Linked DNA regions of Homo sapiens. The protein of the gene in region 3 interacts with the protein of the main gene of each other region in a pairwise test. Each region holds a gene or a part of one and is shown on either strand. Other genes may lie near its edges.

Region 1 (3,249 bases), about 39 Mb from region 3:
TAGTATATTTTAAATGCTTATACTTAATAAATACTTAATATCATTTGTAAATAACTGCCAAAGTCTAAATTTGAGACCCTCTCTTTTAATAGGCCTTTATTCTACTCTGTGCTCGACTGTGCTGGATTTGGAAAACCTAGATTCTTTGGGCCACACATTAGGGTGAATTATTCTAGTATTGTATCTCTTCAATTCTCCCTAAAGTTAGTCTTTTTTCTTGCCTTGTGTTTTAGCCCCTTGAGCAATGAGACTAATGTCCCTTGGAATGTTGTTCCTGGAATGATCCTTTCAGGGATGTGAACTTGTGTACTGGTTCGGTTTGTGTACTGAGAACTGGGGATACTGACTTATCATATTGGTCCTACAAGGTGTCAGGAACACACACCCTACTCGGAAAATATTCCTTGCTTTTATACAGAAAATGTTGATTATCATTCCCGTTGATCATATTTGCTCTGTATGTTTCAAAGCCAAATGATTCAAGTCTGAGTTCACTAAACCCCGGGAAGTTTGCTATAAAAGGGTCACTTTACATCACTTCTACCCGACATTATAGATTTTCTTTTCTTTTTTTTTTTTTTTTTTTCAGACGCGGTCTCGCTCTGTCGCCCAGGCTGGAGTGCAGTGGTACGATCTCTGCTCACTGCAAGCTCCACCTCCTGGGTTCACGCCATTCTCCTGCCTCAGCCTCCCGAGTAGTTGGGACTACAGGCGCCCGCCACCACTCCTGGCTAATTTTTTGTACTTTTTGTAGAGATGGGGTTTCACCATGTTAGCCAGGATGGTCTCCATCTCCTGACCTCATGATCCGCCTGCCTCGGCCTCCCAAAGTGCTGCGATTACAGGCTTGACCCAGATTTTCTTTTCTTTTCTTTCTTTCTTTTTTTTTTTTTTTTGAGACGGAGTTTCCCTCCTTTCCCAGGCTGGAATGCAATGGTGCGATCTCGGCTCACTGCAACCTCTGCCTACAGGGTTCAAGTGATTCTCCTGCCTCAGCCTCCCGAGTAGCTGGGATTACAGGCATGCGCCACCACGCCCGGCTAATTTTGTATTTTTAGTAGAGACCAGATTTCTCATGTTGGTCAGGCTGGTCTCAAACTCCCGACCTCAGGTGATCCGCTGGCCTCAGCCTCCCAAAGTGCTGGGATTACAGGTGTGGACCATTGCACCCGGCCCCGACATTACAGACATTCTATTTTCACAGCATAATTTTTACACTGTAAAATTGTTTGTAATTAAGTAGTACAATTTTTAAATAAGGTACTTGGTTTCTGATGGTTAAAAATTTAGAAGACACTATATATAAATAAATTTTAGAAATCTATCATCTTACCATTAAAAGTTAAACCACTACCAACATTTTCTTAAAAGCTAAATTAATACAAACAATAGTAACTGAATAATGAGATTTTCATTTTTTATATCATTTTCTAATATGAATACAGGCCAAAGAAGACTACTTAAATATAAAATGAAAGGAAGCCTGCACATTTTGTCTGTGATTAAAATAGCTTTCTTCCCAATACTGTTTCTTTCTTTCTTTTTTCTTTTTTTTTTTTTTTTTGAGATGGAGTCTTGCTCTGTCGCCCAGGGTGGAGTGCAATGGCATGATCTCGGCTCACTGCAACCTCCACCTCCTGGGTTCAAGCAATTCTCCCACCTCAGCCTTCTGAGTAGCTAGGGCTACAGGCGAGCACCACCACCATGCCTGGCTGTTTTTGTATTTTTAGTAGAGATGGGGTTTCACCATGTTGGCCAGACTGGTCTCGAACTCCTGACTTCAGGTGATCCACCCACCTCAGCCTCCCAAAGTGCTGGGATTACAGGCATGAGCCACCGCACCCGGCCTGATTCCAGTTTTTGACTATTACAAATAAAGGTACCATGAACATTTGTGTACAGGTTTTCATGTGAACCTAGATTTCCATTTCTCAAGGATAAATGCTAGAAAATATTTGTATATGCCTGTCAGGATATTCTGGTTGTAGCATAATTCATTTTTTTCTTCCTTGTTTTTAGTTATCTTTGGCTAAGATAGTGCATCTATTTCCTTCCCTTTTTAAAAAGTTTTATTTTAGGTTAAGGTGTACATGTGCAGGTTTGTTAATAGGTAAATTATGTGTCATGGGGGTTTGATGTATAGATTGATTTGTCACCCAGGTAATAAGTATGGTACCCAATAGGTAGTTTTTCTCTCCTCATCCCCTGTCTCACCTTTCTTCCTTTTTAAAGCATTCTATTTAATAACAAAGATTTCCAAAAGGGAAGTAAAAGAGTAAGTGGTGTGCACTGATTTCTCTTCTTTGCTACACTGGGATTATGGTTTAAACTTCTAATGGTGATTACAGGGAGACTTGAGTGTACCTTTGGATGTGGCGTGACAAATCTTAAAGCTCAAGAAATAAACCTAAGCATACATTTACTTTCAGGCTTACAAGACAGTCACATCAGACCAAGCCAAACACACAGAACATAAAACAAATTTGAAAGAAAAAACAAAAGCAGAGATACATCCATTTCAAGGTAAATGAATTTCTTAATTTTTTATTTTTATTTATTTTTTGAGGCACTAATTTCCATCCACTTAGTCTAGCAATGAACACTATTTGCTTTTGGCTTCTTTCCTAGCTTAATCCAGAATGACTCTAGGTATAAGTTCATTTAGAAAGGAAAAGTTCAACTGAAACCTGAAGAACACTGTTACACCTTTTGGATGAATGCATTTGACAAATGAATGTTTTACATTTATATTGCTGACCAGTGACTTTTGACTCCTTTGTGTGGTAATATTATTTTCCCCTGCTCAGGCATCCACCCATGCAGGCATGAGCTTTCATTTTTCTCATTATCTAAAAATAATAATATAACAAATTATCTTTCAGTTTTGGCTAAGACCACCTGTGTGCCTTTGTGCAAACAAGGTACATTTGACATAATAGAATCAGTTGTGTATAATGAGTCCTTCAGTTGATAAAATGGTGACCATGGGAACAGAAACTTTATATTTTCACTCTTTCCTTCCTTCCTACACTTCTTTTTCCCACCCTCCCTTCCTTCCCCCTTCCTTTCCCCCTTCCCTCCACGGGCTCTCCCTCTGTCAACCAGGCTGGAGTGCAGTGGTGCAATCATAGCCTACTGCAGCCTTGAACTCCTGGGCTCCAGCAATCTTCCCATCACAGCCTCTCAAGCAACTAGGACTACAAGCATGCACCGCTACACCCAGCAAATTTATTTTTTATGTTTTGCAGA
Region 2 (4,469 bases), on a different chromosome or scaffold from region 3:
AAAAAAAAATTGTAAGTTGAACCATTGTGAGTCAGGGACAGTCTACTGTGTTGCCAGCATTAAATGCCTTTTGAACTTAGGATATTTTGACTTACAACGGGTTTATAGGAGTTCGACCCCATCATAAGTGGAGAAGCATCTGAATATACAGAGTTTGGTATGATCTGTGGTTTCAGGTATCCGCTGGAGCTCTTGGAACATATCCCCTGCAGATATGGGGGACTATTGTGTGTGTGTGTGTGTGTACGTACACACATATATACGCACATTATACATTATATGTATATGATATATATGTGTGTGTGCATATATATAGAGCCTCTGATCCATATCTTTTATATATATATATATTTTTTTTCTTCCCTTCCCCTTCCCCTTCCTCTTTCCTTCCTTCCTTTCCTTTCTTCCTTCCTCCCTCCCTCCCTCCCTCTCTCCCTCCTCTCTCTCTCTCTCTTTTGCTCTGTCACCCAGGCTGGAGTGCAGTGGCGTGATCTGGGCTCACTGCCACCTCTGCCTCTCGGGCTCAAGCGATTCTCCTGCCTCAAGCTCCTGAGTAGCTTGGATTACAGGCGCACACCACCACGCAGTTAATTTTTTTTTTTTGAGACCGAATCTCACTCTCTTGCCCAGGCTGGAGTGCACTGGCGTGATCTCAGCCCCCCAGGTTCACGCCATTCTACTGCCTCAGCCTCCCGAGTAGCTGGGACCACAGGCACCCGCCACCATGCCCAGCTAATTTTTTTGTATTTTTAGTAGAGACGGGGTTTCACCATGTTGGCCAGGTTGGTCGGAAACTCCTGACCTCGTGATCCACCCACCTCAGCCTCCCAAAGTGCTGGGGTTACAGGCGTGAGCCACCGTGCCTGGCCTCTATACACATATTTTCTGATTAGGTGCAAAGCAGTGTGTTATAGGCGTGTCAAGAGCCTCAAGTGGCCAAGTGCAGTGGCTCACGCCTGTCATCCTAGCACTTTAGGTGTCTGAAGTGGGAGGGCCCTTGAGCCAAGGAGTTTGAGACCAGCCTGGGCCACATAAGGAGACCTCACCTCTATTACATTTTTTTTTCTTCTGAGACGGAGTTTCACTCTTGTTGTCCAGGCTGGAGTGCAGTGGCGTAATCTCGGCTCACTGCAACCTCCACCTCCCGGGTTCAAGTGATTCTCCTGCCTCAGCCTTCCGAGTAGCTGGGATTACAGGCATGCGCCACCACGCCCGGCTAGTTTTGTATTTTTAGTAGAGATGGGGTTTCGTCATGATGGCCAGGCTGGTCTTGAACTCCTGACCTCAGGTGATCTGCCGGCTTTGGCCTCCCAAAGTGCTGGGATTACAGGCGTGAGCCACTGCACCCGGCTAAAAATAAATTTTTTTCAATAAAAAATAAATAAATAAATTAAATAAATAAATAAATAGCGAGCCTTAAGGGGAGACAGACGTGTAACTGAACTGCACAGTGGGAACAGGCCACTTCCTGGGGATGTCATGACGCTGACTTTTTTCAGATCCACATTGACATGAGTCTGCCCAAATATTACTAGTCCTATTTTAATTCATATATATATGTATATATATATATTTTTTTTTTAGATAGAGCTTCACTCTTGTTTCCTGGGCTGGAGTGCAATGGCACGATCTCTGCTCACTGCAACTTCTGCCTCCTGGGCTCAAGCGATTCTGCTGCCTCAGCCACCCGAGTAGCTGGGATTACAGGTGCCTGCCACCACGTCCAGCAATTTTTTTGTATTTTTTAATAGAGACACGGTTTCACCATGTTGACCAGGCTTATCTCAAACTCCTGACATCAGGCGATCCACCTGCCTTGGCCTCCCAAAGTGCTGGGATTACAGGTGTAAGTCACCGTGCCCGGCCTTAATTCATATTTTTCTAAAAAACAAGAAGTTCACATATCAATGAAAATATAAAAGAGAGGAACATAAGGAGTGGAAGAGGCATTTTATAATTTATCTAGATATGACATTTTAATTGTAATTAGCTTTATTGATATATAGTTAAAATTCAATAAAATTCACCTATTTTAAGTGCAAAGTTTAATGAGTTTTGTCAATATGTACAGTTATGTATTCACCACCAGAATCTAGACACAGAATGCTTCCACCCCTTCAGAAAGCTTCCCATGCCCCATACTAATCCTCTTTCCCATTCTCAGCCCATGGCAACCGCTCATCTGCTCTCCGTTAAAAGTTTTGCCTTTTCTAGAATTTCGTATATATAGAAACATGTGAGTAGTCTTTTGTTTCTGGCTTCTTCCACTTAACACAATGCTTTTGAGATTCATCCATGTTATATGTAGCAGAAATTTACGCATTTTATTACCTAATAGAACTCATTTGTATGGATAACACAATTTGTCTTGATTCACCTATTGATTACTGATAAGGATTTGAGTAATCACAAATTTTTTAATTGATTTTTTATTGTGGTAAAGTAACATCAGATTTGTCATTTTAACCATTTTAAAGTGTATAATTCAGTGACATTAATTACATTTGCAATGATGTGCAACCATTACCATTATCTATTTCCAAAACTTTTCTTCACCCCAAACAGAAAGTCTGTAACCCTTAAACCGTGGGCAGTGGCCCAGATCTGGTCATAGCTACTCTGGAGGCACGGGCTGGAGGATCATTTGAGTCCAGGAGTTGAAGACCAGCTGGGGTAACATAGTGAGACTGCATCTCTAAAAAAACCCCAAAACCACCGCGCGCGGTGGGAGGCCGAGGCGGGCAGATCACCTGAGGTCAGGAGTTCAAGACCAGCCTGGCCAACATAGTGAAACCCTGTCTCTACTAAAAATACAAAAATTAGCCAGGCGTGGTGGCACATGCCTGTAGTCCCAGCTACTTGGGAGGCTGAGGCAGGAGAATTGCTTGAGCCCAGGAGGCAGAGGTTGCAGTGAGCTGAGATTGCGCCACTGCACTCCAGCCTGGCTGACAGAGCAAGACTCTGTCTCAAAAAAAAAAAACAAAACAACACAAAACAAAACCTGAAAACCTCTGTAACCATTAAACAATAACTCCCCATTCTCTCCTCCCTCCCCACAGTCCCTGATAACCTCCAGTCTACTTTCTTTCTCTATAAAGTTGTTATTTTGAATATTTCATATAAGTGGAATCATACAATATTTGTCCTTTAGTGTCTGGCTTATTTCTTTTAGCATGATTTTTTTTTTTTAGATGGAGTCGCTTGCTCTTGTCGCCCAGGCTGAAGTGCAGTGGCGCGATCTCAGCTCACTGCAGCCTCTGCCTCCTGGGTTCAAGCGATTTTCCTGCCTCAACCTCCGAGTAGCTGGGATTATAGGCAAGCACCCAGCTGACATTTAAATTTTTAAGCAGTCTGATTAATCATGTTTTGTGGATTGTACTTTTTGCATTTTAGTAAGAAACCTTTATCTAACCCAAGGTCCCAGTGTTTTTCTCCTTTGTTTTATTCTAGAAATTTTATAAAGCTTTTAGACCCATGCTCCATTTCAAGTGAATTTTTGAATATGTTGTGAAGTAATAGTGAAGGCAGTTTTGTTTTGCATGTGCATTGTTCCGGCACCATTTGTGGAAGAGACTTTTTCCCGCTGAATTGTCATCTTCTTAAAAAATCATTTATTGGCCGGGCGCGGTGGCTCATGCCTGTAATCCCAGCACTTTGGGAGCCCGAGACAGGCGGATCACGAGGTCAGGAGATCAAGACCGTCCTGGCTAACACGGTGAAACCCCGTCTCTACTAAAAATACAAAAAATTACCGGGCATGGTGGCGGGCACCTGTAATCCCAGCTACTTGGGAGGCTGAGGCAGGAGAATCGCTTGAACCTGGGAGGCAGAGGTTGCAGTGAGCTGAGATCGCGCCACTGCACTCCAGCCTGAGCAACAGAGCGAGACTCCGTCTCAAGAAAAAAAAAAAATCATTTTTCCTGGACCGGGTCTGTTTCTGAGCTCCAGCCTGTTCCAGTAGTCCATATGTGTTTCCTTACGCGTGGCTTCAGTGTCTTCAATTACTGTAGCTTTGTAAGTCTTGAAATCACATGGCGTAAGTTCTCCAGCTTTGTTTGTTTTTCAGAATTGCTTTGGCTAATCTTCACAATTGCTTTGCATTTCCATATAAATTTAGATTCAGTTTGTCAATTTCTATAACAAAACTCTCCTAGGATTTTGACTGATATTGCTTTAAATCTTTGCATCAATTTAGGGAGAACATGTTAACTATTTTGAGTCTTCTGGTTCAGGAACATGGTATATGTCTCCATTTATTTAGGTCTCCATTAATTTTCTCAGCAATGCTTTGCAATTCTTACTATATAGGTCTTGCAAATATTTTGTTAAATTCATCCATATGTATTATATTTTTATGCTATTGTAAATGATATATTTTAATTTCAATCCTCAATTTGTCATTGCTTGTATATAGAAATACAATATAATTTTTGTATATTAATCTTTTATTCTATGACGTTGCTAAACTC
Region 3 (5,439 bases):
GCACAGGGAATGATCAAAGAAGTTGAAAATAGAGTCTAGGAGAAGAATTTAAAAGAAGGGAGCTGTCTTTGGTTGGAAGAAAAAGAGAAAGTAGAAAAATGACAACTCTAGTGGCTTTGAAGACTACAAAGAGTTCTTACTCATAGTTATCCATGTATTCATTTATTTATTCACCCAAAATGCCCTGCAGTGGGCCAGGACCTGGCGGATATGAAATACAAAAATTAGAGGTACACAAAACAAAACCCTGGCTTTAAAAATCTCCTCTACATGGCCAGTGACCAATAACTGAACAAAATCAAGTGTGGAATTGGATGCAAGCAGGAAAGGAGACTGAAGTGTAGGGATTTGAGAAACTGAAATGCTTGCCAAGGCCAAGGTAGCAGTGGAAATAAATACACCTCCACTGGCCATTTGTTCATGGGAACAACTGCTTGTTAAATGGTGAAGTAATTTTCAGGGTTGATTGGGAGAATTTATACCAGGAGAAAGAAGGAAAAAAAGGTTATAACTTCATTTCGTAGTTTGGGTTATTCTTTCTTGGGCTTGGTGTGGTCAGTATAAAGCAGAGCAACTATTTTCTAGTTTCCGCTGTGCACTTCATGTATACTAGACACTGTGTGAGTCACATCAGGGACTACCCACACCACATAAATAGCAGAAAAGACAGAAGCCAATGATGCCATCTCTTCCCATCACACTGAAGTTAACAGAAAGCCCACTGGCAAGTTTGCCAAGAAAACACGTATGTACAAACTCATGGTAACTGGTTGTGTTATTAAGTCTTGAGTTCCTCTTGTGCCGCAGGTTCTTGGAATTTCCTAGTCTTTGATTAACTAAGATTTATCATTATTTAGGACAAAAGTGTTGTGATTCTATATCACAAATACAGGGATGATATTTTACTTCATTAAAATAATATAAATAAACAAGATGTTCAATCTTAGATAATTCAAGTGCCAAGATAGACTGTTTTTTGTGTTTTTTTTCTTTACACATGAATTTTTTTCTGGTTTAATTCTCTAACCATTCAAACAGGAAAATTCAAACTTTTCCAGCCATAGTTAAGTCTAGCTTAAAATCTTATTTAAAAAACCGTGACAATAGAAACAGAATTTTATAACTTAGGAGAGTGCTTCCTAGTTAATATTTTCAATATTCAGTGATCTCTGTGAACATTTAAGTGGGAATTTTAGTTTTTAAAATGCTCAAAATTTACTTCTGTGGGTCTCACTCATATGCAAACTGCCTATATCTGAAATTATGAGTAATCAAAAAGTCATTTTTACCTTTGTTCTTTTTGTGTGTATTGTATATGTTATTTTAAAATGGTGAGCCCATTTTAAAGAAATTGTGTGCTTTTAATCAATCCATTAAGTAACACATTCTGAGAAAATATCTACTTTATACAAAATACATTGTTTTCTCTTCAAGATAATGCTGAAATATAAATGACAACAATGACATTCTTAAATTGAAATCTGCCTTGTCTCTCCTCCATCCCGAAACATTATTTCATAAGTCAAGTGTCTGCTCATAGCTTACCTGTCTCGCTTCCAATCAAAGGCTGATTTGCAAAATGCTTGACAAAATCCTTCAAAGATGAGAATTCATTAAAGCCAAATTTAAATGAATATCCAGTATATTCAACATGAAAGTGTTTAACAGAATCTTTGGCCCTAAAAGGGAAAAAGAAGTATTTAATATTATTTAACAAATAAATATCTTGTTGAAGGGAAATATGATCTCAGATGTTAGCATCACTATTAACCCTTTATAAGAACTGAGAATTAGGCAATCATTGAAACCACTGACAGTTTTAAATAGCATCACTAGTTTCTTTTGGCAGAGTTTGCTCTTTTCAACTTTTATTAATTAATTAATTCATTTATTTATTTACTATTTTGAGACAGAGTCTTGCTCTGTCCCCCAGGCTGGAGTGCAGTGGCATGATCTAGGCTCACTGCAACCTCCGCCTCCTGGATTCAAGTGATTCTCTGGCCTCAGCCTCCTGAGTATCTGGGATTATAGGTGTCTGCCACGATGCCTGGCTAATTTTTGTATATTTAGTAAAGACTGGGTTTTGCCATGTTGGCCAGGCTTGTCTTGAACTCCTGACCTCAGGTGATCCTCCTGCCTCGGCTTCCCAAAGTGTTGAGATTACAGGCGTTAGCCACCACGCCCAGCCTCAACTTTTCACTCTAATGGAAGACAAGAGACTGTTCTCCCTATCTACTCCTAGACTTACCAAAAGAGTCCTTGAACATTATGCTGCTAAGGGGCATGAGTTTAAGAAGGGCAGAGAATAGGAATGATAGAAATGACATATGACACCCTCACCACACTCTCCTCTGCCTTGGGCTTTTCTCCCTTGCTTGTTTGGGAGTCAATCAGAATTCAGCTCTGTCGCTTGATTAGTTACGTGAGCCTAGCCCTTTTCCTCCCGTGCATGTTCCACTGCCTACTGAATAAAATATCAAATTTCCTACATTGTCATTTTCCACTTCATTTTTGAAATGAGGCAGAGTATTAAACAATATATATATATCTATATATATATCTATAGATATCTAATCTATATATATCTATAGATATCTATATATATCTATATATATATATCTGCCTCTCCACTTTATTTGATCCCATTCTATCTTTCTAGCCTCACTTCCTGCTATTACTCTCAGTGCAGCCCATGCTACCATGTTAGCATGCTTCAGAATCATCTGATGGGCTTGTGAGAACCCAGCTTGCTGCCACCTCCACCTCCACCCCTGCAGATTGAGATTCGGTAGATCCAAGGTGGGGCCTGAGACTGTGCATTCCTAGCATGTTCTTAGGTGACACACCTGGTCTGGGGACCACACCTTTAGAACAGCTGCCCTAGTCCAACTGGATCTACTGCTCTTCAAGGAGTTTCCACTTCTGTCCCTTAGTTCATACTGTTCCTTTTTCCTGAAACGGTCTTTCTCTTTGTCTCTGCTGGTAGAAATCCCAGCCACTCATTAAGGTGCAGTTCAAGTACCACCTCCTCTGTCAAGTATTACATGATAATTCCAGCTTAAGTTAACTGCTTTTTCCCTTCTGAACCACCTAAACACTTATCTTGCTTTCTTTTATGTTATTTGTCAACCTCTACTTTGTAGTATGTTACTTGTATGTGGTCTTTTTGGCTCTGTGAGGCTGTAATTCCCCAAAATAAGGTATTTCAATCTTCTACAGCAGGGATCCCCTATCCTGGGGCTGCAGACTGGGTACCTGTTAGGAACCAGGCCGCACAGCAGGAGGTGAGCAGTGGGTGAGCAAGCATTACTGCCTGAGCTCTGCCTCCTGTCAGATCAGTGATGGCATTAGAGTCTCAGGAGCCTGAACCCTATTGGGAACTGCACATGTGAAGGATCTAGGTGGCACACTCCTCATGAGAATCTAATACCTGATGATCTGAGGTGGAACAGTTTCATCCTGAACCCGCATTTTCCACAAAACCAGCCCCTGGTGCCAAAAAGGTTGGGGACCACTGTTCTACAACACGTACCAAAGTGGCTGGTGCAGAATAAATGCTTTCAAATATTCATCATTAAAAGAATGAACAAATAAGTGAATATTTGTTCATAAAACAAAAATAGTCATTCTCCTGAATTAGTCTGTGGTTTTTGTCACCTCTGCTGGTCATTTTTTTAATAAGCATTCTCTAGTGCTTGCAATGAAAATCAATAATTTATTCTTTATTTTTTATGTATATGAAATATGTATGTCATTGATTTATAAAAAGCTTATGATCTAATTGCTCAGATGAGACATACATAGGTGAAAAGTTAATTAACTTTTCATTTTTGGAAGATTCATGCCAGGGGTCCCCATCCATCCCCCTGCCAGCCACGTAGCAAGAAAACGAGTGATGGGTGAGCTAGCGAAGCTCATTTTTATTTATAGTTGCTCCCCATTGTTTGCATTCTCAATGAGCTCCACCTCCTATCAGATCAGTAGAGGCAATAGATTCTCATAGGAGTGCAAACCCTATTGTGAACTGCACATGCAAGGGATCTAGGCTGTGTGCCTCTGATGTTAATCTAATGCCTGACGAACTGTCACTGTCTCCCATCACCCCCAGATGGGACCATCTAGTAGCAGGAAAACAAGTTCAGGGCTCCCACTGATTCTGAATGATGGTGAGTTGTATAATTATTTCATTATACATTACAGTGTAATAATAACAAAAATAAAACACACAATAAATGTAATGCACTTGAATCATCCCAAAACCATCTGCCGCTGCTCCGGTCTGTGGCAAAATTGTCCCTGGTGCCAAAAAGGTTGAGGACCTCTGATGTGTGCAATAAAGCATCTACAACTTAACCATTAGATGAACTTTTAACATTTGCTGTTGAGCAGAGAAAGCACAATTCTTGTTGCCACTCAAACAGAATTCCATCTTGGATTAATAATTTTTTCATCTATGTTATTCAGAAAATTTATAAATAAAATATAACAGGGTGACATGAGAAATGTTAATGAATATGCTTGTTTTTCCTCTGTGACCCCTACTTACCCCATCACCCTCTACCTGTTTCGCACACCCACCCACTTCAAGTAGGCCTGTAGATTTTCACTGTTCCAGGAATGGGAGTTGTGGCAGGCAGCATTCTAAGATGATCCCAAATCCCAGCCCCTGGAGTACACACACTTTATCCCAATTATTCAATCAAAAACTAGTCTACATGCTACTGGGAAGGGATTTAGCAGGTCATAAAGTCCCAAGTCAGTTGATGTTAAGATATGGACATTATCTGAGTGGGCCTGAACTAATCACATGAGCCCTGTAAAACAGAGTTTTCTCTGGCTGCTCACAGAAGAAAAAGTCAGGGAGATGTGTTCTGGCTGGCATGCAAGAAAGCAAACACCCATGTGGTAAACAGCCATGGGTGCCATGTGGCAAAGAACTGTGGGTGGCGTCTAGGAGTTGAGAATGGCCCCTGGCTGACAGCTAAAAGGAAAAGGAGGACCTCAGTTCTACGGCAGCAAGGGAATGGATGAAAAAGGATGAAGAGGAAAGGAGAAAATGAAGGAAGAAGACACTAAATACCAGATCAGAGCCACAAGCTTCTCCAACACCTTTATTTCAGCCTGGTAGGATCCTGGACAGAGAATCCAGCCAGAAACTGTGAGATAATCCAGTTGCGTTGCTTTAAGTCCCTAAGTTTTTGATAATTTGTTATGTAGCATAGAAAATGAATATAGAAGCAAGGCCCAGAGCCCAAAGAGACAATGTGAATGCTGCTACTGAGTTAGTGACCAGTAGTGACCGTGTAGACTGGGAAAGAAGTGAGAGAGCCTCTGAGGCCAGATTAGCTTGAGGAACTGCACTATGAAGGGAAGAGTGACTCTCCAGGGTATATGGAGGTGCCATCAGAACAGTAACACAATAACAGTTTGAGCTTAATG
Region 4 (4,469 bases), 5.9 Mb from region 3:
CTTTTCATGTGATTATTTGCCATTTGTGTATCTTCTTTAGTGATGTGTCTTATACGTTTTTATGATTCATTTCATAGCATAAAAATTGGAGCAACTCAGCAACGAGAAAATGAACAACACAATTAAAATGAGCAAAAGATCTGAGTAGACAACCAAAAAAGATACACAGATGGCAACTAAGTATATAAAAAAAATGCTCAGCATCATATATCATTAGAGAATTACAAGTTAAAACAAGGAAATGCCACCTATCAGAATGGCAAAAACCCAAAACACTGACAACTCCAAATGATGGTGCGCATGTGGAACAACAGGAACTCTCATTTACTGCTGGTGGGAATGAAAAATAGTACAGCCACTTTGAAAGACAGTTTGGTAGTTCCTTACAAAGGTAAATATACTCTTACCATACAATCCAGTAATTGTGCTTCAAATGAGTTGAACATTTATGTCCACACAAAAACCTGAACACAGATAGATGTTAATAGCATCTTTATTCATAATTGCCAAAACTTGGAATTAACCAAGATGCCCTTCAGTAGATGAATGGATAAACTGTGGTACAGCTATACAATGGAAAACAACCATCAATAGAAAAAGAAGAATACAATAATTCCAAAAAGAATCAATATAAATAACAATGGCATTTGCAAATGTCTATAAACAGTACAACTGAAAATCATTTTGGAAAACTTTACATCTTATATTCAATTGTCTACATCTTTCATTGGTAGTATGTTTTTACCCCTCTCTAAGAACTCCTCTATAATCAACTGCATTCCAATCTGGAAACCCTTTCATCTATAATTCATGGCCATGAACACATTCCTCTGTTCCTGACCCTCTATATACTTGATAAGTTCTTAACACACTGCATATAGAGAGTTAATTGGACAACATTATATCAAAAACCTAAAATCCTTAATATATACTTATGCAAATTAGTTTAACTGTTTAATGGGGAAAGAATTAAAATAAGTATTAAATTCCTCAACACAAATAATGTAACACGTTTAAATTATCACAATTTAATATCTGTAGTCTGCAATCATTGATGTATTTTGAGGGGTCTCATAGAAATTTTGTAGCTCACTGCAGAAGTGTAAAAATGGAGAGCTTGTACTATTAATAATGATCTAAAGTTCCATTTTTTTGTGTTTGTGAAACTACCTTCTCTGTATGTGTGAACTATTAGGCATAATCTAAATGATATTCCTTACCAATAATGTAAGAAGCATCTTTCAGAACCATATTTTTAAAAATTACACAATGAGGTAAGGAGAACATTTTACTAAAGAAAATAGTAAAAAGATAAAAGAGAAAATTGTAAATATTTAAAACTAAAAAAGATAACTAGCACTATAGAATTTTTTTTTTATAAAGCAGCACTTAAAGTAAGACTTTTATTTTTTCAAATTAGAAAAATTTTAAATTGTTCTTCCTGATACAAACTCATATATTTTTGTTTTCTCTTGGTCAGATGCTTTCTCCCTAGCACTACCACCAAATTCTATTTTCTTGAAAATTTAGAGTGTTCTTGCTTCTTTGAGAGGCAACAAATGTTTCCGTAGAAACCATTATGATGTCTCAAACACATTATGACTTATGATTATGAACAGATTATGAACAGATTATGACCTTTAAATAAAAAGGTCAAGTCACAGGAAATCTCTACAGATATATTTCACAATAATATCAGAGCATGAGACAGAAAGGACAGAAAATAAAAAATTCATACATATATATTATACTGTATTTTAAGTGGACTTTAAGATTAAATGAGCACAAGTAATTGATTATAAGAACAAGGACTGTAACTCTCTTTGAATACTGAAGCACTTAAAACACTGCCTTGCAAATAATACCCTGTTGAGTGAATGAACAAATGATAAAGAATCCATTTGTTACCTTCAGAGAGTAATCCCCTCAGTCAGTATTTTTCAAGTTGCTATTTATCACTCATTTAGGGGTTGTGAAATCAACATAGTAGGTTTTTAAAAAATGAAATAGAAAATATCAGAGTACACATCCTATAAGTTATTTTGTAATTATTTATATATTTTTTTACATATTATTTAAAGATATACATTTATTTCTATAATTATCCAACTTGTAAAATGTATTACAGTTGTCCCTCAGTATCCATGGAGGATTGGTTCCAAGACCTGTATCAGAAACCCAAATCCACAGATACTCATACTCATGTCCTTGATATAAAATGGTATAGTATTTGCATATAACCTATACACATCCTCTCCTATACTTTAAATCCTAGATTACTTCTAATACCTAATACAATATAAACACTGTGCAAATAATTGTTATTCTGTATTGTTTAGGGGATCACGACAAGAAAAAAGTCAGTACATGTTCAGTACAGATGCAATTTTTTTTCCAAATATTTTAAATCTGCGGTTGGTTGAATACATGAATACAGAACCAATGGATATGGAAGGCCATCTGTATTTACTGAGTTAAAGTAAAAAAAAAGTTTGAAAAATACTCTCTAAGGTACCCTGAGAGCCAAAAAGTTTATTAATTCTCTCAAGAATTGTGAATTGCTTGGAAATAGATTAGGTGCTAAGGGAATGGATCTTTAGACATGATAATCACACAAGAAATTTTCTCTTTTCCTCATCTTTCCTGTACTCTTCGTTCTAGTGACTTATTTTTATTTGTTAGATGTACGTGGCATCTTTCCTTTCTTTTGAAATGAAGTTGCAATTAAATAACAATAATTCATGTTTACAAGAAATTGAGGAGGTTTACTCTGACAGGTCACTCCATTTATCAACATGCCAGGCCACTCTACTAATATCCAGATAGCTCAGAAGGTACTGAACCACATTCATTACACTCATGAAGATATATTTAAGGAAGTTGCTAATGAAAACTCTGTGAAATGAAAATTAAATTTCTTCATAAGGAATGATTACCAAATAGTTACCTGGCTCATAAGATCAAAACCATTATAAATATCACAGAGTTCTTTAAGGACAAGAAAAAAAAAAGATGATCTATTTTTAAAACAAAGGTTTAAAAAAAAAGCATAGCTATCAAAGCAAAAATAAAATTTTAGTAACTCTGTAGTTAATTGTCAATAAAGGGCAGAAAAATTTGTCAGAATAAAAAGAGAAGCAAGATGTTGCATCTATTCAAAATATCTCCTCCTTTGCATTCCTTTACAATCACTTACTATATAAAATATTTGTTCTTATTTTATATCATTTCCTTAGTCATACTTCCTTTTTTGAAAATATACTCACAGATGTTTAGGTGAGCAGTGTAAGCAGAGAAAAAACAGTAAACAACCTATCTAAATGAAAATATAATCCCAGCTCTCTGTTTTTTACTTATAAATTAGAACTAGTGAGTTAAAGCTAAAAGCTCTTGAGGACCTAATGAATAGGAATAGACACAGAAAATACAAATTTACCACTAAATAAGTGGCATCAACCATTTTTGCAATATGCCAGCAAAAAGTGAGGTTCCCAACTTTATGCCGATGGGAACACAGGAAGAGGTATTTAGTTTTGCTAAAAAATCAATTTCTAAAAGAGGAATGATTTTACCTAAGCTAATAAAGATGTCTGTGTGTGTGTGTGTATGTGTGTATTTAAACTCAATTCAAAGCATTAGAAGTTAAAATGTAGAAAATTAAATCATAAGTGGTCAAATTACAAGATTTTATAAAATGATAAAATGCAACTTTCTGTCTTATAGGCGTACAATAATGTTTTAAATATTTCTGTCAAAGTGTACTTGCTTACTAGTAGCAACTGAAAAATAATATACAATCTTCTAGTATTGGAACAGTAGGATTTTGCCCTAGTATAGCTATTCATTGCTATTTCTCCCATAATGTTGATACGCTATCTACTAGAAAATTCTAGCAAATAAATTGAATGGGGGGAAACATGAGTGTACATATTAATTTATTCCTTTTAAATCTATTTCTAAGACTTTTCAGAGGAGAGGGTATCGTCAGGCCCCTTTCCTTATGAGGTGCTGAGCCATCAGGGGTTAACTTTGTAAAGTAATAAAGTATTTTCTGAAAAGGAAGAGCTTGCAGCAGGTTTATATATAATACCTTAGCATTTCCATGTTTGTCTCTGACAAATTAAAAAAAAACAAAAAAAACACCTCATCGATTCTACTTGTTATTGTTTTCCATCTTTGGTTTTATTCTGTTTAGCAGAACTGGGTATTTTCCCTAGTTCTTCTAATTTTGACCCTTAGTAATTCAAACCTTGATTTAGCAAAATTGACTCTTACTTTTATGTCCTTGACTTTATTCCTGCGACTAAATATTCTGTCCCTAGATTCAGTTTTATGTTTCTGGTAACTTGACCTTGATTACGGATGTTGAACTTGATCCTGATTCTGATCATTTGGATGGCCACTCCATTCACCTCAATGTATGTTAATGCAAGCAAAAAGGCTTGCCAACATAACCACTATATGAATTA

The links. The genes of interacting proteins can lie anywhere in the genome.
Region 1: the proteins of DAPP1 (region 3) and MGARP interact in a two-hybrid assay, tested with the Homo sapiens proteins (one large-scale study listed by BioGRID and IntAct).
Region 2: the proteins of DAPP1 (region 3) and TM4SF19 interact in a two-hybrid assay, tested with the Homo sapiens proteins (one large-scale study listed by BioGRID and IntAct).
Region 4: the proteins of DAPP1 (region 3) and GSTCD interact in a two-hybrid assay, tested with the Homo sapiens proteins (one large-scale study listed by BioGRID and IntAct).

The regions. Positions count from the first base shown.
Region 1 is NC_000004.12:139,267,946-139,271,194, reverse strand, and holds part of MGARP (protein MGARP), read left to right. Parts: intron 1-2,429; coding exon 2,430-2,523; intron 2,524-3,249. UniProt on the Homo sapiens protein: Plays a role in the trafficking of mitochondria along microtubules. Regulates the kinesin-mediated axonal transport of mitochondria to nerve terminals along microtubules during hypoxia.
Region 2 is NC_000003.12:196,328,389-196,332,857, reverse strand, and holds part of TM4SF19 (transmembrane 4 L6 family member 19), read left to right. Parts: intron 1-4,469. UniProt on the Homo sapiens protein: Negatively regulates vacuolar (H+)-ATPase (V-ATPase) activity by interacting with members of V-ATPase V0 complex and hence inhibiting V1-V0 complex assembly. Required for multinucleation during osteoclast differentiation.
Region 3 is NC_000004.12:99,836,529-99,841,967, reverse strand, and holds part of DAPP1 (dual adapter for phosphotyrosine and 3-phosphotyrosine and 3-phosphoinositide), read right to left. Parts: intron 1,680-5,439; coding exon 1,546-1,679; intron 1-1,545. UniProt on the Homo sapiens protein: May act as a B-cell-associated adapter that regulates B-cell antigen receptor (BCR)-signaling downstream of PI3K.
Region 4 is NC_000004.12:105,721,315-105,725,783, reverse strand, and holds part of GSTCD (glutathione S-transferase C-terminal domain-containing protein), read right to left. Parts: intron 1-4,469.